3 linked regions of the Homo sapiens genome follow. The protein of the gene in region 2 purifies or fractionates together with the protein of the main gene of each other region. This does not show direct contact. Each region holds a gene or a part of one and is shown on either strand. Other genes may lie near its edges.

Region 1 (7,089 bases), about 12 Mb from region 2:
AAGAAAGCATATATGAGGAACATAAGAAAGAGATGAAAACTACCAGTGAAATCAGTGAAGAAAGACATCTACTAGCAGTTTCTTTGCTTTAAAAGATGAATTAAATGATTACATACATTAAATTTAATGGTTTATCTACATACAATAAAATATAAACATGTTAAAGAATGAGACAACGAATAGGTAAAATTCATTAGCTTTGAGAAAGAGGACAAAAAAACGCACCAAATGTTTTTGCTAGAGAGGAAGCTAAGAGCAAACTCTCACTACTTTGTAAATCTATAAGGCTACTTCTTTTATGCGACATAAAAACTCACAATTTACTGCTCCTCTTAAAGAATGGTAGGACAGCTTTCTGAGCAGCTCTGACTTCCCTAAGACAACTCATTGGACTTGAAAATGTACGATAGTTTCATGTAAATACAGAAAATTGGGTGGGTAATGAAAAAGAATAGACATAAATGAAACTCACCAACTCAGGATGGGAAGTCGACTCGCTGGAATTACAAAGTGGAAATAAGGCCCCAGATGAATCACCACAAAGTATGTCTTGTCCTGAACTCAATTGCTCACTACATTTTAGGAAATTAAACTCCGTCTTTCCTGTATGTGCAACACATAGGTTGTAGGAATAAGGCAAAGTCCCCTGACTGTAGTTGGGGGGAACCACAGGTCCAGACTTGACACAGAGACCAGGTTGGAAGCAGCTCCAGGCGGCAGGGCTGGAGGAGCGTCGCAGGCGCAAGGCAACGGCCAGAATCACGGCCAGGAGGAAGAGCACTGAGATCAAGGCCAAGGCCACCACTAGGTAAAACTGCAGCTCAGCCTGGGGGTCAGAGGGTACAGGGCGGTCAGTGATATCCGGCAGCACCTCCTGCAAGCTGTCAGCAAAGACCAAGTGCAGCGTGGCGGTGGCGGAGAGTGGCGGCTGTCCACCATCACGCACAGCAACCAGCAGGCGCTGGCGGGCCGCGTCCCTGTCGCCCAAGGCACGCGCTGTGCGCACCTCTCCTGTGCGCAGCCCCAGGCTGAAGAGCCCGGGCTCGCTAGCCTGCAGCACGTGGTAGGACAGCCAGGCGTTGTGTCCTGAGTCTGCGTCCACGGCCACTACCTTGGTCACCAGGTAGCCGGGCTCTGCAGCGCGCGGCACCATATCGAAGAGCGCAGAGCCGTCGGGACCCAGCGCGGGGTACAGCACCCGCGGTGCGTTGTCGTTTCGGTCGCCCACCAACACGCGCAGGCTCACGTTTGCGCTGAGCGCAGGCGAGCCCTGGTCGCGGGCCTGTAGTGTGAGTTCGAAGGTGCGCAGCTGCTCGTAGTCAAAGGCGCGCTGCGCGAACACCACCCCACTTTGCGCGCTCATGGACACGTAAGAGGCCAGTGCCAGAGGCTCTAGGTCGCTGGCCATGATAGAGTAGGAGACTTGGCCGTTCAACCCCAAGTCCAGGTCCGAGGCGCAGACTTGCGCGATGGAGGCCCCAGGAGGGTTGTTTTCGGGTACACTGACTAAGTAGGACGCCTGGTGGAAAACCGGAGCGTTATCGTTGACGTCTCTGATATGTAGGATGACGCTTATGCTGGAGGAGAGGGGCGGCTTGCCCCTGTCTGTGGCTGTGATGGTGACATTGTACTCCGGGGTTTGCTCTCGGTCTAGGGTTCCATCTGTTACCAACTTATACGAATTTTTGGATGAAGAGATAATCTTAAAAGGGACTTCGCCTTGTAATTGACAATTAACCTCCCCATTTTCCCCAGAATCTTGGTCATGTATTTTGATCAAAGCAATTAGTGTTCCAGGCACCGCGTTTTCCAGAATCATTTCAAGTAGAGAATGGAATGTAACTTCTGGGCTATTGTCATTTTCATCTTGAATATTAATTTCAACTGTACATTGTGCAACCAGTCCACCACCATCCCTCCCTTCTACAACCATTGAATATTCCTTGGTCTCTTCAAAATCCAGTTTCTTTTGAGTGGTAATTTCTCCGCTCTTTGAATTCAGACTAAAGATTTGCCCGGTTCTGTAGAAGGAATAAGTAATTTCTGAGTTGATGCCCTCGTCTTGGTCAGTGGCTGACACTTGCAACACAGTGGTGCCTGGTGGCACGTTTTCCCGAAGGCTGACTCTGTACACGTCTCGGTTGAATACCGGGGGATTATCATTGGCGTCGGTTACCTGGATCCGGAGCTCAGTGGTGCCGCTTAGGGGTGGATGTCCACCGTCCAAGGCAGTCAGGACTAAACGATGGTAACTCTGTTGTTCCCGGTCTAAGGTTTTCTCCAGTGCCAGTTCCGGGTATTTACTACCATCCTGTTTCTCCTTAATTATTAATGAGAAACTTGGGTTAAGAGAGAGTTTATACTTCTGCAGAGAGTTTAAGCCAATATCTGCATCTTCTGCTACTTCTAGTATAAATCTTGTGCCAGGCTGTGCAGACTCACTTATTTGCAGCTCAAAGGAATTTTGCGTGAATTTTGGCGTGTGGTCATTAATGTCCTCGATCTCCACATTCACGTGATAAAAGTTCAGTGGATTTTCAGCAACAGCCTCAAATTCCAGAGCACAAGCTGGCTTCTTCCCGCATATCTCCTCCCTGTCTAGCCTGCTGCTCACAAGCAACTCCCCGCTCTCTGCGCTCACGGTGAAGTAAGGCTTCTCCGAACTGACGCGCAGTTTTCGAGTCGGTAACTCCTGGACGCTGAACCCCAGGTCCGTGGCGAGGTTCCCCACTACGGAGCCCTTGGGCATTTCCTCGGGAATCCTGTAGCGGATCTGCTCACAGAGCGCCGGGCAGAACAAAGACAGCAGGAAGAGAAAGAGCACTGGCAGCCTCTCAGCCCGGCCCAGCTCCCCGGCGCCGCTCCCCATCCCTCTTGCTCTCCTCAGCTTGCTCACCAGCCTGGAGACGCCAGGTTACAAATAACCTCTGTATTGTAGATTTTTGGATCTCCGAACGGGCTTTAGTTCCAGTTCCAGTTTAGGAAACGATTCTTTTTCCGAGGAGGAAGCGGTGTAAAGGCCGGCGCTGGGGAGTCTGAGCTGGGGCTGCCCTGGAAAGCGCGCTGCGGCTGCGCGAGGAGATCTGGAGCGCCAAGCTCTGCACTTTGGCCAACAGCGGCGCCCAGAGTCAGCACTAGGAAACTACAGCCTCTGCGGCTTCAAGTTAACCAGTGCAGTAATTGTTTTTGTGTGCCTAACTTAACAAGCCAAGTTTTTACGTCCATATACTTAATAAAAAATTATAACAACTTCTTTAAGGTATCTTTCTCTGTTTTCCAAATTGTTAGAAATATCACGTTGGGTTTTTATACAAACCTGCATACATTGGTCCATTCTTTCACCATTCTGCAAACATACCTTGAACTCTTAGCTAGAACTAAGTATTGCCCTTGTCACTGGCAATATAATAATTAATATGATACAGTTCTTGCTCTCAGAGCCTTCATACTATACTGATTTCAAAAATTCATTTTTTATTAGCTATGGAAACAATTTTATCATTCTTCTGTTCATTTCTATGATTTCCAACTCCCCAATATTTCTAGTGTTTTATATTACACATATTAGGGAAATCTATACTATTTAAAACTATTTTGTAAAGTTGTGGCAATTTTATACCAATCCCCAAACATCTCCTCTTCCTGACTATATTAACATTCTTTATAAAAATAATTTTTCTTTACTCTTCTACTTCAGGAAATATTCATTCAAGTATACTGCCCATATGATGTAGCTAAGAAATGATATACCCTACTACGTTGCTCTTCTTCATATCTCAAAATACTTCTCTTATGTCATATCTTTTACAGTACATAAATTCATTCTTAAGAGTTATTGGGGAAATGCTTATCTATTCTGCAATACAAGGTACAAAGGGATATTCTAGTGGATTGCATTATTATCCTATCTGAAATGACTTTGGAATTGGATAAATGAAGCTCATAAGTTCATTTACATAAATTTGTGGACATTGGTCAACCTTCTTTAGTCCATTTGTCAGATTAATAAAAACAACTAGCCAACATTTTTAGGGAGAGTAAGGATTTTCTTTCCTACCAGGGCAACTTTCATCCGAGTTTTTAAAATTGCAAAGTGCCAATAATATGTTGTCCTCTCAAATGTGCATCCAAATGGTACACAAACTATGAAGTTAACTCCCACTCCACTGAATATGCACCATACAGTAGAACACTACACAATCCTTAGGAAATGTCCTTTTCATTAATAACAAACATTTATTGGGTCATCTACTTCTACCTTACAACAATCAATTCAGGTATTAGCTTTATTCAAATGCTACAAGAAGGTATGCAGGAATACAATAATGGATAGCCTATACCGAGTTTTTACTATTAATATTAGTTTTTTTTTTTTTTGAGACGGAGTCTCACCCTGTTGCCCAGGCTGGAGTGCAGTGACAGGATCGAGGCTCACTGCAACCTCCACCTCCCGGGTTCAAGTGATTCTTCTGCCTCAGCCTCCCGAGTAGCTGGGACCACAGGCGCATGCCACCATGCCTGGCTAATTTTTGTAGTTTTTAGTAGAGACGGGGTTTCACCATGTTTGCCAGGCTGATCTTGAACTCCTGACCTCAGGTGATCCACCCACCTCAGTCTCCCAAAGTGCTGGGATTACAGGCGTGAGCCACCGCACCCGGCCTAATAATAGTTTTTTTAGAGACAGGGTCTAGTTCTGCCACCTAGGCTGGAGTGCAGTGGCATGATCATAGCTCACTGCAGTTTCAAACCCCCGGGGCTCAAGCGGTCCTCCTGCCCCAGCCTCCCAAAGTGCTGGGATTTCAGACATGAGGCACTGTGTCCAGCCAAGACTGAATAACTTTAATTGAATTGATCAGCTTATTTAGAACTTGTGTACCTGAAACATTGGTTCTTAATATCAACATTCTCACCACTTCACATCAATGCACAACCGAAACAGCTAATTGGAATTGTATTGAAATATGTTCTTACATATTTTACAAAAGTCACTTTCAACAGTTTAAAATTACATTTTAATTCAGATCTAATGTTTTTGCTTTTGTTTTTTGTTTGGGGGAGCAATGGACATTCTAGGCTTTAGATTTCATGTCTCCATGGGCATGGAGCCCAGGTGACCACTGACTCACATACTTAATATTTAGTAACCAGTCTCATCTCCCACCAAGATCCATCTTTAAAGTTTGTTCATGTTTTGAAGGATGGTAAGAAGTATTAAAGTTTTGAAGGGCACTGGTACAGAAACAGGGCTCAGAAAAGAGGTTTAAAGTGAAGAAATCTACAAGAGCCTAGTTACAGGTTCAAATGCTAAACATAACCCTAAAAATTCTGAGATATATTTTACTTTTGCTAAGCTAATAACAAGGCTTTAGACTTCTTGATAATTTTCTGAAGTTCTAGTTTGGGATACACACACACACACACACACACACACACACACACACACACACACACACAAACAATAGCAAAATTACCAGTATGGACGGGTAGCTACTTCTTAAGTGAATGAGTGATAATAGGAATAAAATACTGGAAGGCTTAAAATGGTTGAACAATCTTTTCCAAGTCGTTTAAAAGCAAATGAAACAATAACCTATGACTATTAGAGTTCAATTTTATAGTAACACCACCAAAATAAACCCAAAACTCTGTGATACACCTTAAAAATTATTTTCAACTATCTTCACAATGTTTTTCAAAACATAATTTATGCCAAATAAAATTCATCTGGAAATTAAAAGCAAGCAAAGAACTAAACTCACCTGACCATGATCAGCTTCATTCTTATATTCATGAAAATCTACGGATGTTAACAAAGAATCATTTTTCTCACAGCCCTCCTGACTGATGAGCATGTCTGCGTAGTTGGGCTGGGGAAAGATCAGGTGACTCTTCCGCGAGTCGGCGGTGAGGGAGACTTCCTGGGAATAGGTCTGCAGGAAAGCCTGTACCTCCTCAACACCCACAAAATGTGAGGCAGGCACGCCTACCAATCTGCCACCGGAATCCTGGAGCAGGCGTGACTTGTGCCAGCGCCTCAGCCTGAGCCCCAGAAGCACAGCGACAAAGGCGAGGAAGACACAGGAGATGGCAGCCACTGCCACCACGAGATAGAGTGTAAGGCTCGAATCGTTCGGGTCGACCGAAGGCTTCAGACTGCCCAACTCGGTCAGGACTTCGGGGATGCTGTCAGCCACGGCTACGGTGAGCGTGACAGTGGCGGAGAGAGGGGGCTGGCCATGGTCCTGGACGGCCACCACGAGGCTCTGCTTGAGCGCATCTCTGTCCAGCAGGGCTCGCGCCGTGCGCACCTCGCCCGTGTGCAGACCCACCGAGAAGAGTCCCGGCTCGCTGGCCTTGAGCAGGCGGTAGGACAGCCAGGCGTTCTGGCCCGAGTCTCTGTCCACCGCCACCACCTTGGTCACCAGGTAGCCACGCTCTGCGGAGCGGGGCGCCAGCTCCACGCCAGTGGAACCGTCTGTGGGGAGGGCGGGGTACAGGATCTCGGGCGCGTTGTCATTCTGGTCCAGCACGAACAGGCTCAGTGACATGTTGCTGCTGAGGGGCGGGTCCCCGCTGTCGCTGGCTGTTACCAGTAGCTGCAGGTCTCGGATCTGCTCATAGTCGAAAGATTGCAGCGCATACAGGACACCGGTGTCAGAGTTGATGGAGATATACGAGGACAGGGGCGCCCCCTGCAGCGTGTCCTCGGTCACAGAGTAAGTGACCTGGGCATTCTCCTGGCTGTCGGGGTCGTGTGCAGTCAAGGAAAAGATGGAGGCTCCTCTCAGGTTGTTCTCTAGGATATACGCTGAGTAGGAGGCATGAGGGAAAGTAGGAGGGTTGTCGTTAATGTCTGCCACGTGCAGAGCGATTTGAGTTTCAGTGGACAGAGGTGGTGTTCCTAGATCTGAGGCCATCACTGTGATATTGTAGATAGAGACATTTTCTCGGTCCAAATATTTCCTTGTCACTAATCTATAATAATTACCTATTGACTTTTCTAATTTAAAAGGTAAATTATCACGTGTGTAACAGACAACTTGACCATTCTTTCCAGAGTCTTGGTCATGCACACTCAAGAAGGCAATT
Region 2 (8,063 bases):
TGGCCATCAGAGAAATGCAAATCAAAACCACAATGAGATACCATCTCACACCAGTTAGAATGGCGATCATTAAAAAGTCAGGAAACAATAGGTGCGGGAGAGGATGTGGAGAAATAGGAACACTTTGACACTGTTGGTGGGAGTGTAAATTAGTTCAACCATTGTGGAAGACGGTGTGGTGATTCCTCAAGGATCTAGAACTAGAAATACCATTTGACCCAGCCATCCCATTACCGGGTATATACCCAAAGGATTCTAAATCATGCCTCTATAAAGACACACACACATGTATGTTTATTGCGGCACTTTTCTCAATAGCAAAGACTTGGAGCCAACCCAAATGTCCATCAATGATAGACTTGATTAAGAAAATGAGGCACATATGCACCATGGAATACCATGCAGCCATAAAAAAGGATGAGTTCATGTCCTTTGTAGGGACATGGATGAAGCTGGAAACCATCATTCTGAGCAAACTATCACAAGGACAGAAAACCAAACACCACATGTTCTCACTCATAGGTGGGAACTGAAAAATGAGAATACTTGGACACAGGGTGGGGAACATCACACACCAGGGCCTGTCGTGGGGTGGGGGGAGTGGGGAGGGATAGCATTAGGAGGAATACCTAATGTAAATGATGAGTTAATGGGTGCAGCACACTAACATGGCACATGTATACATACATAACAAACCTGCACTTTGTGCACATGTACTCTAGAACTTAAAGTATAATAATAAAAAATAATAATAAATAAGAAAAAGTATACATTTGCCACTTTATCAGACCACAAGTTGAACTGAAAAGAACTAGGAACAGTGATAGCCTTGAAGGGCTAGCCCATTTTCCATATACTGCCTAACTCACTTTGGTTTGATATACAAATATTATATCATAAAGGTTATTTGAAAAGTTCTATACCTTAGAGATCACCAGGGTATAAATATATTTTTCCATATTGTTCTGTGAGTTTAAAAACTTTATACAAGGTATTGGTATGTATCTATTAATCTAAAATACTTAAATATTTTCATTATGGTCCTTGCAATGGATCTTCCTCTTTCCGCACCTTCCTTCCCCATTGAAGAAGACTCTGCATAAACCATTTAGATTACACCAAATAAGTATCATTTTTCATATTTCACTTCTATTTCATTAAGCAACCCATCTTCCTAGCTTCTTTACTAATTAGCCACTAAACCCCAGGCTTTTCTTTACAGTTCAGTGAAAATACGTGTAGCCTAAGATGTCCTAACTCCAAGGCAGGGGGAGGAGGAAGGGTAGAACTTAGTCAAAAAAAGAAAAGGATGCATGGAAGGATAAGAAGAAGAAACAGAAAGGCTCCTAGAGTCTGCCAAGAGCCCACGTTCTGGCTCACAGGTGGGAGCGCAACCTTGCTAGGCAAGTCCTAGCTTGCAGACAGTATAAAATAAGAGCAGACATGAAGAAAGGAATTCAGGTACCTTCCTTTAAACATATCTCTTCTGCAAATGTAGTCATCCCTGATAAAGTACAATTAGAGGTAGGTAGACGTGTCACAATGAAGTCAGATAACTTTCCTATTCACCATTTTGTCAGAGCTGATAAAATTTAGAAGTGACCAAGTTCTCTGTGTGTTCTTGCACTCACTGAAGGAACCAATAGCAGTAAAACTGTCCCTGTCTCAAAATGGTAGGAAGCAGAGATTTCATAAAAGTTTTCTGAAACTACGTGCCTGAAGGGAGGAGACAGTTGTTAAACCAGCATAGAATCATAAAACTATTTTGTACTCTTAACATGCACACTTCACTCACCCAAAATATTAGTTACGAATTATCCTAAAGAAAAAAAAAAGGGTATGAAAGCAGGTGGGCTGCCATTCTGTATAGGCAGACCACACCCCATACTCTACCTGCGCCCACCACTAGGGCTCTGGGCCCACAGGCGCGGATGCAATTCAGGAGGGAGTTGGAGCGAATGTTGGTGTTGAGAAAGGCCACCACGCAGCCCAGCTTGGCGAGGCCGAACCACACGTGAACGAAGTCCGGCTCATTGCTCATCAGCAGAGCCACCGTGTCCCCCTTTTTCAGAGAGGAATGGTTCAGGAAGACATGGGCCACTCTGCTGCTCCTTTTGTCTACATCCTGATAGGTGTAGATGTCTCCCTCATAGATGATGAAAGGTTTCCGAGGTTGTCTTTTGGCATGACTCAAGAATTTATCCAGCACAGTCACCAGCTCCCCTCTCTTTTCATACTTCTTCAGCCGAATTATAATGAGCACCACCTTCAACACGAACCAGAAGTCATCCCAAAAGTAAGGGAACAGGAGTTTCTGCAAGAAGTGCAGGACGACCATTCCAGCCCCTAGAACTGTTAGCCATGACAGAAGCATGGGGGCAACTGGGCCAGAAGACAGCTCTGATCTCAGCCCCCACCAGCGTCCTTCTCTTCCAGGCACAGCTCTCCACGGAGACCGCAGATCCTCACTACTCAGGGCTTACACCTGAAGTTCTTGTCAGCTTTTCCGGGGCGAAGCGGGATGGGGAGGAATCCTGAGAAACAGAATCGTAGGTTTGCACCGAAAAGGTCGCCCCAAGTGGTGCTGAAGATTAAGCTTGGGTCACTGGGCGGCTGGAAAGCAGGGAGCCTCCGACTCCTGCGAGAAACCAACACAGCCACCCTCAGGGGTCTTGGAATCTACAACCCCAGCGCTGCGCCCTCGCCTCCCAACCGCGACAGCGGCCCGTGCCCTGCGAGTTCCCCAGGACTTTCCAGACCTCTTCTCTGTGAGGGCTGAGTCAGTCCTCCCTGCTTCTGCGACCCTAAACAAACCTCACCACCCTCAGAAGAAGGTCCAGGGACAGAAGCTTTTCTCCTCTCAGGTAGTCTTTCCCGCGAGCTTGAGTTGGAGGCTGAATTCGAGCCGGGAAAAGCTGGGATGATGATGACTGAGAAGCGCAGCGATTTACAGTCTCTACGCACCAGAAACCGCGCAGGGGCTCAGCACCACGTCTCGGTCCGTGGCCTCAGGGCCAGCGGGTTCCAGGGTTCCTGAGCGCCGCCCCCGTCCTGCCCCGCCCAGCCCCGCCCAGTCCCTCTGACGCAACGGGTCCCGGAGAACTGCTCCTTGGTGACCCACGCGCCCGCTGGAAAGGGGTGCCCCTACCCCAGCCGCAGCTCGCACTCCGAGTGTCGTTAGGCTAGCCTAGTGTATTCTCCTCCGAAACATGGTGGGAGTGTTGCCTGCCCACCTTCGGCCTCCAGGCTCAGGGCTAACCACATCCCCTGGCGTGCCGCAGCCGGAACAGCCTGGGCCCCGCCGCCAGCTCCTCCCTGGGCGCGCGTCCGGCCACCTAGAGAAGTGTGGCGCGCCGACCTGCTCACACCCCAGGGAGGAGGCCCCGCGACTGGCGTCTCCGGCGGGGAAGAATGTGACAGTCCCGTGGGGGGAAACCCAGGGATCTGGAAGGCTTGGGGTCACAGGAGAACCAGAGTTGCTGGGATTGGGCGGCGCGGGGGCCCTGGCGAGGCTGATAAGGTATAACAGTGTCGCACAAAGGTCATCCATTGAACCAATTAATAACTAGAAAATGGAAAGAAAAGAACAAACATCAAAAAAACTGCAGGGAGAGAGAGGCAGGGAGGGAGGAAGAGAGGGCAGGAATATTTATGAACTGGACAGATCCAATAATATTTTGTAAGAAAGAAAGGAATATTTGGACACCACAAAATTGTACTGTTCTTTACAAAAAGTATTTTTGAAAACATGTTGATAGGTTGGTTTTTACATTTATATTAGAACTCTATCGTTAGAGAGCTAAGACAGTGCGTTTTACAAAATTTGGCAACAATATTGATTGATTTGAGAGCTTCAGTCGATATTCGTATTTAAAAATAAAAACAAAGTTTATAATGCTATTTGCAGTCCTTAAAAGTAACAAGATCCCCCCTCCCTGAGACAGATCATTTAAAGAATTATGTCTTCAAACTAAGGATTCTAAAGGGAGTGGGGAGGTGGAGTGGAGAAGTAACAAGTTAGTGGAATGGTTAATAAAATTTTATACGAAGATGAAATTTTACTAAAGATCAAAAAACTAAAGAACATTTCATTACACTTTTTTTTTTTAGCAGACACCATCATCCCAGCTGTCTGCTTTTAAGTGAGTATAAATGGTTAATTGCTTGTGTTAAAATAGTTAAGGAAGGCCTCACCTTGTTAGGTGTTTCTCCCTTCTGCCTCATGTTCTGCAGATGGATTCTGGCTAACCTCAGATTCTGTAATAAAAGAAAAACTGATAATTCCAAAGACGAGCTCCAGTTTATTAATCTGAAAATGATTACTTTGAAGTCACAGTGAAGAGCTCTTAAAGCCAAAGGAACATAGGCTCTTAAAGCCCTTTTCTGTAAATGACAAAAAAATGCTTTCTAAATTTACTCAGAAGCTTTGATCTTTTCGATTCAGAAATATCTTTTTAATTAAGAAAATAGTATCAAGTAGTTTATAACTTAAAACATTAGTTTACAACTTGAAAAGCATCTTTGACATTCTATTGTTTTCTCTTCTAGCTTTAGTCTAATTAAGTCACCTCCAAATAACAACATTTAACGAACACAAAAGAATATGGAGCAGTTGGTCTCAGACTTTTGTAGTTTTAATGAGTAAAATCTGTCCTTCTCCAGTGGAAAAAATAATACAGAAAGATAGGCGTGGCATTTCTTTTATTTTGCTGCACTTATTTTTCTTATCATGGACATTCTAATACCATCCTAAGGCATGGAACTAAATTTTTAGCAACTACAGATACAATGAATCTAGAATATATTCAGCACCATAAATGTGAGCTTGTTTGACTTATTAGGAAGAACTACAAGTAAGCATATGTTGGGCCAGACTTTGTACTAACCCAAACCAATTTTATGCCTGAAATCTCACCATGGAAGACATAATCAATGAAAAATCTTGGGACAGTTAACAGTATTGTGTATATTCCTATATTAGCCCATGTACCTGTTTCTATTTTGTCCAGAAATTTTGCATTCACTTTCAAATGCTACCAAAGGCAGCTAAGTAAAATAGATACAATTTTTAGCTACAATAGTTTAAGAATTTTGAAATGGGAGAAATATAGCAAGAGTTAGTTGCAAGTGAGTAAATCTATCATTTAACTAAAATAAAGAGAAATAAACACATAGAAATAGTCTAGACATTCCTGCTAACATTACTTTTGACTAGGAATAGTGTAATATTTCTCTGCTTCTCCTTTAAAAAACATAAAGACTGTTTGTTTTTCTTTAATGTTATTTGAAAATAAAAATATTGTGACTAAATGAAAATCAATGCCCCAAAAAAGTTTATTTTTAATCTACATGTGGTCTCTTCAACCTCTTCTTCATTTCTGATTTGACTTTCCTCTTTAACCCACTACCAACCACCTTTGCACCCTCAGTTCTATAGAGGATGAATTGTTTAGTGAGTAGATCAAAGTAAGACTGAACAAATAGCAATATATGACAGACATGGAGCCTACAGGATTTTGCCACTGTAACCTAAGAATTCTGACTCTTTGCTGTCAAATCACTTGTCTTCATAAGTCTTCTGATGGAATTCTATAGCAGTCATCATTTGGATTATGGGAGGTTTGAGTGAAAACCAAGAAATTTAGAAAGATGCCAAACAATGCTGGGTTGGTGGCTAAACATCATGATGAGTGCTTGCAATGGGCCAAGAAGCTCTGACTATCTAGACGGCAGCCGGGGCTTGGGAAAGGGAATGGCAGTGAAGTGACTGAGGGAGTTGGATGGCTCTAAAAATGAATGGGAGAATGCTGGATGCAGGAGTCATCCACTTTACAATTCTACCTGGGAACAGGGTTTTTAATTATTGCTTTTAGGATCTGATAATAACTTCGGTTATCATGGGAAGCTTACTCTTCCTATAATCTAATGTTTATTTGTATTAATGAATAATCATTGCCCAGAATAGTATTCGACACAAGGACTCATGAAGCAAACCGAACATTAAAAATAAGAGGCGTGCACGGAGCCTCGCTTACTGATAACACAGCAGTCTGAGATCCAACTGCAAGGCAGCAGCGAGGCTGGGGGAGGGGCATCCTCCATTGCTGAGGCTTGAATAGGTAAACAAAGTGGCCAGGAAGCTCAAACTAGATGGAGCCCACCTCAGTTCAACCAGGCCTGCCTGCCTCTGTAGACTCCACCCCTGGGGGCAGGGCATAGCTGAACAAAAGGCAGCAGACACTTCTGCAGACTTAAATGTCCCCTTCTGACAGCTTTGAAGAGAGTAGTGGTTCTACCAGCACAGAGTTTGAGATCTGAGAATGGACAGACTGCCTCCTCAAATGGGTCCCTGACCCCGAGTAGCCTAACTGGGAGGCAACTCCCAGTAGGGGCCGACTGACACCTCATCCAGCCGGGTGCACCTCTGAGATGAAGTTTCCAGGGAAGGATCAGGCAGCAACAATGGCCATTCTGCAATATTTTCTGTTCAGCAGCCTCTGCTGGTGATACTCAGGCAAACAGGGTCTGGAGTGGACCTCCAGCAAACTCCAACAGACCTGCAGCTGAGGGTCCTGACTGTTAGAAGGAATACTAACAAACGGAAAGGACATCCACACCAAAACCCCATCTGTACATCACCATCATCAAAGACCGAAGGTAGATAAAACCACAAAGATGGGGGGAACCAGAGCAGAAAAGCTGAAAATTCTAAAAATCAGAGCGCCTCTTCTCCTCCAAAGGAACGCAGCTACTCACCAGCAATGGAACAAAGCTGGACGGGGAATGACTTTGACGAGTTGAGAGAAGAAGGCTTCAGATGATTGGTAATAAAAAACTTGTCTGAGCTAAAGGAAGATGTTCAAACCCATCACAAAGAAGCTAAAAACAGTGAAAAAAGATTAGACAAAAGGCTAACTAGAATAAACAGCATAGAGAAGACCTAAAATGACCTGATGGAGCTGAAAACCATGGCACAAGAACTACGTGACGTATGCTCAAGCTACAGTAGCTGATTCTATCAAGTGGAAGAAAGGGTATCAGTGATTGAAGATCAAGTTAATGAAATGAAGTGACAAGAGAAGTTTAGAGGAAAAAGAGTAAAAAGAAACGAACAAAGCCTCCAAGAAACATGGGACTATGTGAAAAGACCAAATCTACATTTGATTGGTGTACATGAAAGTGAAGGGGGAAAAAGGAACCAAGTTGGAAAACGCTCTGCAGGATATTATGCAGGAGAACTTCCCCAACCTAGCAAGGCATACCAACATTCAAATTTGGGAAATACAGAGAATGCTACAAAGATACTCCTCGAGAAGAGCAGCTCCAAGACACTTAATTGTCAGACTCACCAAGGTTGAAATGAAGGAAAAAATGTTTTGGGCAGCCAGAGAGAAAGGTCGGGTTACCCGCAAAGGGAAGCCCATCAGACTAACAGTGGATCTCTCGCCAGAAACTCTACAAGCCAGAAGAGATGAGGGCCAATATTCAACATTCTTAAAGAAAAGAATTTTCAACCCAGAATTTCATATCCAGCCAAACTAAGCTTCATAAGTGAAGGAGAAAGAAAATCCTTTACAAACAAGCAAACGCTGAGAGATTTTGTCACCACCAGGACTGCCTTATAAGAGCTCCTGAAGGAAGCACTAAACATGGAAAGGAACAACTGATACCAGCCACTGCAAAAACATACCAAATTGTAAAGACTATCAATGCTAGAAAGAAACTGCAACAACTAACGATCAAAATAACCAGGTAAAATCATAATGACAAGAACAAATTCACACATAACAATATTAACATCAAATGTAAATGGGCTAAATTCTCCAATTAAAAGACACAGATTAGCAAATTGGATAAAGAGTCAAGACCCGTCAGTGTGCTGTATTCAGGATACCCATCCCACATGCAGAGACACACATAGGCTCAAAATAAAGGGATGGAGGAAGATCTACCAACCAAATGGAAAACAAAAAAAAGGAGGGGTTGCAATCCTAGTCTCGGATAAAGTAGACTTTAAACCAACAAAGATCAAAAGAGAAAAGAAGGCTACTACATAATGGTGA
Region 3 (7,000 bases), on a different chromosome or scaffold from region 2:
CTGTTGAGCCCCTCTAGTGAATTTTTCATTTCAGTTATTGTACTTTTCAACTACAGAACTTCTGTTAAGTTCTTTTTAGTAACTTCTCTTTGTTGATATTCTCTATTTGGAAAGACATCATTCTCATACTTTTTTTAGTTCTTTAGACACTATTTCCTTTCATTCTGAGAAGATATTTAAATTAGCTGGTTTAAAGTCTTTGTCTAGTAAGTCCCACATCTAGGCTTCCTCTAGCTAATGACCAGACAGTAAGTCTTCCAATCTTTGTCAAGAGGCTTTGTGTACATGTTGAAGCACATTTTTAGCATTCACCCAAGCAGTTTACAATTCTACCTTAGCCTTCACTTCCTTCTTGCAGAGACTCTGAGAGCTTAGGGTCTTCTCAGGTCTTTCCTGAGCACATGTATAGCCCTGGGCACATGTGTGACCATCTAGATCTTCAGGAATACTGGAGCTTTTCGGAGCCCCCACAGAATTTCATTCCCCAGTTTTTCCTTTTAAGCTTTATGATGCACCTATTGTTTGCTCCAGTGTTATCCACTGCTTCAGCTTCTACAATCTTTAACAATTGCCTCTAATTGTTTTTTGACAAATTCTCTCCCACCTTTTCATTCCCCCTATTTTCTGGCCCTATGTAAAAAAGCTTTTTATACTGGGTAAGCTCCAAGTCAGGTCATATAAAAATAGCCCTGTGAGCGGGGTCTTCCAGGGATCTACCAGATGGTCAAATCATCACAGTTCTCTGGGAAAAGGCTTTGAAAGAGCTCCAACCCTGTTCTGCCTCCTCTGGTGGCTGCAGGCTGCTCATTTTCACCATGACTGTGGGCTACTGGCTTTCAAGGCTACTGTGGAACTGGAGAGGAGGGAGATGAGAATAGAGCAAGTTAAAATGTCACAAAGCTTGCTGTTCTTACTGAGGTTCCAACATTTTTCTTGAATAAACATGCTCCAGATTGCTGCAAACCTCTGGTTCATTTCCAGAGTCCTAGAAAAGTGAATTCTGATCATTTTTGCCAGTTTCCTCATTGATTTTATGGAGGAGAAAAATTGTAAAGGTCTTTAGTCCACCACTGTGATTGACACTACCCCTCTCTATTTTTTAAATACTGGTTTTATTAATTACTGAGATAGTTGATATTTCCACCTATTTGTGGATTTGTCTCTTCCTTCTTTGAGTTGTCAAGTTTTGCATCATGCATTTTGAAGCTGTTAGTAGGTGCCTACACATTTAGAATTGTTAAATATTCTTATAAGCTGGTCCTTTTATCATTTAAAAAAATGCTTCAGTGGCTGGGCACAGTGGCTCATGCCTGTAATTCTAGCACTTTGGAAGGCTAAGGCAGGAGGATTAAAGCCCAGGAGTTTGAGACCAGCCTGGGCAACATAGTGAAACCCCAACTCTACAAATTTACAAATTAAAAAAAAAAATTAGCCTGGCATGGTGGTGCACGCCTGTAGTTCCAGCTACTCAGGAGATTGAGGCAGGAGGATCAGTTGATCCCAGGAGGTCAAGGCTGCAGGAAGCCATGATCATGCCACTGCACTCCAGCCTGGGCAACAGAGCAAGACTCTGTCTCATGAAAAAAAAAAAAGAAAAAAAGCTTCACTTCATCTCTGGTAACACTTGCTGCCTTGAAGTCTACTCTGTCTGATATTAACATAGCCACAAGTCTGTTGGCTATATGCCAAGCACATAGGAACCCAGAATCAGCTTGTACTCAGACACAGGGGAATACTTCAGCTATTCAGCAAGTAATGTCACCTAGACCTAATATCAGGCTTCTGGGCCTTGAAATCTCCCTTTAATTGTGACTGTCCCCAGTAGCCCTCTAGACATTCATTCCTGTATATACCACTTTCAGAAATTCTGGCCATACCCAATTACCTAGGCTCAGAATTCTGTTATTGAGCCATGTGGGTCCATAGAGATCTACCTTTTCTACCATTTCATATGACCAGAATGACCTCTGGTCATTGCTGATGATATATGACATTTCTGGCACATAACAGCTAAAATGATGATTAAAAACAGTAATAATAACAGAATACCATCACTACCCAAAATAATATCCAACATTTAAATAGCACTACTGTGTGTGTGCTCCAGGTGTTATTTAAAAACATTCCTTACGTTAAACCATCTAAACTATATAATAGCCCTATAAGGTAGGAAATATTTTAATTCTCCTTCTACTAGTGAGGTAGCTAAAGCACAAAGAGATCAGCAAGTTGTCCAAGTCACATAACTGTCATGAAGGGAGTCTTCAAATTCAGGCAGTGGCTCCAGAGTCTAAGCTCTTAGCCACTGTGTAATACTGTCTTACATGCCTGTTAATAGAAAGCCAGAACTAGTCTTAAGGTCTCTTAATTCCTGGTTTAGGTCTCTCTTCATGGCTTATACTACGGAATGGGAGTATATAATATACACTGGGAGTCTTTAGCTGGCCCTGAACACGTGACATTGTTATGTGACTGTATATAGTAATGGTATCTAATTTTGCCCTGGACAAGACGTGTCTCCATTCAGATTGATGGGGATACATTCTGAAAAATGCACAATCATTGTTGTACAAGCATCATGGAATGTACTTACACAAACTGAGATGGTATAGCCTGCTACATACCTAGATTATATGGTACAGCCTATTGCACCCAAGCTACAAACCTGTAAAGCACATAACTACACTGAATCCTGTAGGCAACTGTAACACAATGGTAAGTATCTGTGTAGCTAAACACATCTAAACACAGAAAAAGCACAGTTAAAATATGGCATCATAATCTTATGGGACCACTGTAATATATACGGAGTTCCATCATTGAATGAAACACTGTTATGTGGCACATGACTGTACTACCACTATACACACCATCTATCCTTGCTTACCTCTATATCACACTATAACTGTTTACTTGTCTGTGTGCTCCACAGAGTTCCAGGAGTAGGGACTAGTTTTGGGTTTTGTTTTTAAAAAGTTTACAATGACTTGAGAGACACAATCTTGGGAATGCTAATTACTGCTAATTAGCAAATGCTAATTGGTTGCTGACAGTCACCAACCTTCAGCTTGTCTGCTTTAGCCCTCATTTCCAGAAGCTTCTTCTCTTTGGCATCTATTTGCAGTCCCTCATCACACCAGTTCACGGCCTCGGCAAAGTGTTTCAGTTCCAGATGGCATAAGGCACCTGCAGAACCCAGAACCCTTAGGATTCAAGAAAAACATGCATGGAAAGAACCTGCTTTGGGCAAGATCTCCCATCCCCCACCAACTACCAGCCAGTACCCTGAAGGCAAAATGGAGGATAATGCCCCTTATACTGCAGTCCCCAGACAAGGGAGAATACTTTTTGTGTCCTAAATCAGAAAAATCCCTAAGGTCCATTTAGTTCAAAACTCCTGTAAGTCTCCCTGGTATTAAGGGCTCTTAAAGTAGGAAAAGCTATAACTTAGTGGCAAACCAGATAGATCAAGGCTAGAAATCTGGCTGTGTCATTTACCAGCTAGACCTTAGACAAAGGACCAAGCATATCCAAGCTTTAGGTTCCTCATCTGCAAACAGGAAGAATAAAGTCCATCCCAGATGATTTTTTCAATGGAGGGAAAAAGCAGACTTTGCTTCAGCTATTCATCAAGGCAGTGGCAAGGCCAAAAACATTAGGTGTCTCCTAATTTTGTTCTTTATGGCTACCAGTTTAAGCTGCCTCTCCCCCATCAAAAAAAAAAAAAAAAATTTCATGTTATCATGTACATTTTTCTCCAGTTAGCCTCTTTAGGTTTTCCACAGAATTTCAAAATATAAGCATTGTAAGGGCTTAGATGCCAACAGATTCTAACCCCATCTTCTAGAGATGAGCAAACTGATATTCAAAGTGGGTGTCTTGCCAAGGTCACATTGTAAATTAAACCAACAACTGAATCAAGGATTACACACTTCTAGCCTGAGGCAAATTCCACAGGATTACCTAGATTCAATTTATCAGCCAATCTTTGTTCAGTACCTTCTTTTCCTACAGCTGAGGGACATGGATCTTCCTACTGCCCTTAACCATGAACATTTAAAGAGGCATAATTTTGAAAAAGCATTTTAAGCTGGTCCATGGGGATGCAGGGAAGATTAATATGTGATGAATAAATTAAAGTTTGCAAAGCACCTATGAGCTTCTCAAAGAAAAGGTGAAGTATAAAAGTAATAAAAGCACTGTTATTACATAGAAAGGTCAGACTACAAGAGAAAACATAATCTGAGAACATCTCAGCACCAAAGTCATCAGCAAAGGTCCCATAACTTATCTTTTAATTAACATTAACATGGCATTTGAAGACCTTGCCTTTCAATCAGCTAATTTGGAAAAAAAATCAGAATATGGCTTTGCAACTGCTTTGTTTTAATTAATTTTATTTTTTATTAATTTAAAATGAGGGGCTTCTAGTTCTCTACAAATTATTATTACATAAAGGGTTAAGTCACTCTCTGAGGAATTCTTTTAAAAGTGGCATGTTGCTGTTGATAAGGAACAGGAACTTAATACCCAGACTGCAAAAATAAGATGACTTTATTAGTATCCTAGCACCTTCATATCAAAGCTTTAAATGTCATACTGTAGTTCCACAAGACTTACCTCTTATTATTGCTTTGAGGTGGCAGGGTTTTAGCTTTCTGGCAGCTGTCACATCATTGAGAGCAGAACGAAAATTGCCTAACAAAACACCGTTTAGTAAAAGAGAGAAGTTTTGAGATCAAAATGTTTCCAAAATTTTATATGTAGTGACAAAGACACTCTTGTACAATCCTGGGGAAATACAAATGAGAGCAACTGTTTTTTTGAAAAAATATGGTTGTACTTGTCAAGAGCCTTAGAAATGTCTATAACAGGCAATCTACAGAACTGTAAATGGCTAGTAAGCACATGAAAAGACGTTCAACATCACTAATGATTAGGAAATTAAAATTAAGAAATTGCTAAAAGTTAGACAAATAATATCTAGTATTAGAAAAGATATGGAAAAGGGGTACTCTCAGGGTAAATTAGAAAGCAAATTAGCATGTATTTTGTACATATACTTTGACACAACAATTTTCTTCTGGAAAATTATCAAAAATACTTGAACAAATGTGCAGGGATAAATGTAAAAGCATGTTAACTACAGCATTACTTTAATTGTGAAAAGCTGGAGATAACTCAAATATCCTCAATTTGGTAATGATTACATGAATTATGGTAAATCCATACTATTGAATACTATGCAGCCATTAAAAAGAATGAGATAGATCCTCATGTAAGAAACACGGTAGGATGTCTGTTCTATATTGTTTTAAGTGGTGGTTCTATGAGTATAGAGGAAGCCTATTTAAAAAAAAAAAAAAACTAAATATCTAGACACACATGTATATATTTGTAAGTGCATTAAAAAAAAAAAAAAAGTATGCAGTCACACACATACCAGTTATCCAAACTAGCAAGCCATGAGGTATACTTTAACTTTCTGGAGTATACTATAATTATTACTTAATGGTTTAGTATTTACCTAAATCTCTAGCCCAGGGGTCAGCAAAATATTTTGTAAAGGGCCAGATAAATATTTTAGGTGTTGCAGGCCACATGTGGTCTACTGCACATTCTTCTTCATTTTATTACAATTCTTGAAAAATGTAAGAAACCTCTGGGGAGGTGGCTCACTCCTGCAATCCCAGCACTATGGGAGACCGAGGTGAGAGGATTGCTTAAGACCAGGAGTTCAAGACCAGCCTGGGCAATATAGCAAGACTCTCTCTCTACAAAAAATTTTTTAAAAATTAGCTGGGCATGGTGGTACATGCCTATAGTTCTACCTACTCGGGAGGCAGAAGTGGGAGAATTGCTTGAGCCCAGGAGTCTAAGATTGCACTATGCTATGATCACAGCTAGTACACTCCAGCCTGAACAGAGTAAGACCCTGTCACTTTAAAAAAAAAAAAAAAAAAAGTATGGAACATTTTTAGTTCATGGCAAGCCAAGGGGCCAGGGGTGGACTCTGAGTCCTAGTTTGCCAAATCGTGCTTTAGCCTAATGAATAATCAGAATTATCAGAAAAATATTATGACTTTATTTATTTTTGCATTATTTATAAAAACCAAAAAACAGTCTATATACTCAACAATAGCAGACTAATAAAGCAAACAGTATAAATAGTGGCATGTCCATATGATGCAACTTTAGCTATTGAAATAACATTCAGAAATGATTTTTAATGACGGTGAAATTGTTTGTTATAAAATTAAGTGAAAAAACTGAATATCAAACTGGAAGAACAGCAGGATCTCAACCATGGAAAAAAATGCACATGAAAGGGATCCAAGGACTTTTAGTTAAAGGAGGCAGATTGAACACATACATTTAACTCAATCCCCACTCTCTCTCCCATAAAGACAAAGAAAATGAGAAGAACACAGAACACATTGTGAAAGCTGGAAAACAAAGGAACAAGTAACTGATGTATCAGGCTTAAGGAAACTGAATTCTAAACCAGTAGAGGGAAAGCACAAAAGCTACCAAGCTGCACTGCAGAAACTACAAAGTACTCAGGACTCAGGAACTGATGGCACCAGGTACCTCTGGAAGTGGGGGTGAAGGTGGGTTGAAAATCTACTTAAGAAGCAGTCAGAGTCCCATATTCCTTACCCCTCTGCTGCACCAGTGACCTACTCCTCCCCTGTTCCTCCAGGTGGAGGACTGGAGGTTTACCCTAGCAGACAATAAAACAGTAGGTCTCTGGACTGGAACCCCCAGGCACAAAGGTGATTCAGTAAAGGAAATATTAAAGATTGAGCCCTTGGTCCTCTTCTCCTACTTGGTTCCCAAAGTACCAGCAGCCAGGATTTCCAAAAAGAGAAAAAAGAGTAAAAAAGAAAAAGAAAAATATCAAAGCATTCAGGAAAATGTCCTAGAAACATGAGTTTCCAGACTGAAAAGGTCCACTGAGTACACAGCACATTGGGAGACCAAGGCAGGTGGATCACTT

Evidence for each region.
Region 1: the proteins of SLC27A6 (region 2) and PCDHGB5 purify together in Homo sapiens (affinity purification with mass spectrometry; 2 studies listed by BioGRID and IntAct, with this or other methods). This does not show direct contact.
Region 3: the proteins of SLC27A6 (region 2) and TTC4 purify together in Homo sapiens (affinity purification with mass spectrometry; 3 studies listed by BioGRID and IntAct, with this or other methods). This does not show direct contact.

The regions. Positions count from the first base shown.
Region 1 is NC_000005.10:141,393,908-141,400,996, reverse strand, and holds the start of PCDHGB5 (protocadherin gamma-B5 isoform 1 precursor), read right to left. Parts: upstream 3,051-7,089; 5' UTR 2,870-3,050; coding exon 473-2,869; coding exon of another isoform or gene 413-472; intron 1-412. Other genes in the region: PCDHGA8 (protocadherin gamma-A8 isoform 1 precursor), read right to left, coding at 5,760-7,089. UniProt on the Homo sapiens protein: Potential calcium-dependent cell-adhesion protein. May be involved in the establishment and maintenance of specific neuronal connections in the brain.
Region 2 is NC_000005.10:128,960,449-128,968,511, reverse strand, and holds the start of SLC27A6 (long-chain fatty acid transport protein 6), read right to left. Parts: upstream 3,025-8,063; 5' UTR 2,375-3,024; coding exon 1,894-2,374; intron 1-1,893. UniProt on the Homo sapiens protein: Mediates the import of long-chain fatty acids (LCFA) into the cell by facilitating their transport at the plasma membrane.
Region 3 is NC_000001.11:54,718,861-54,725,860, reverse strand, and holds part of TTC4 (tetratricopeptide repeat protein 4), read right to left. Parts: intron 4,699-7,000; coding exon 4,621-4,698; intron 3,187-4,620; coding exon 3,062-3,186; intron 1-3,061.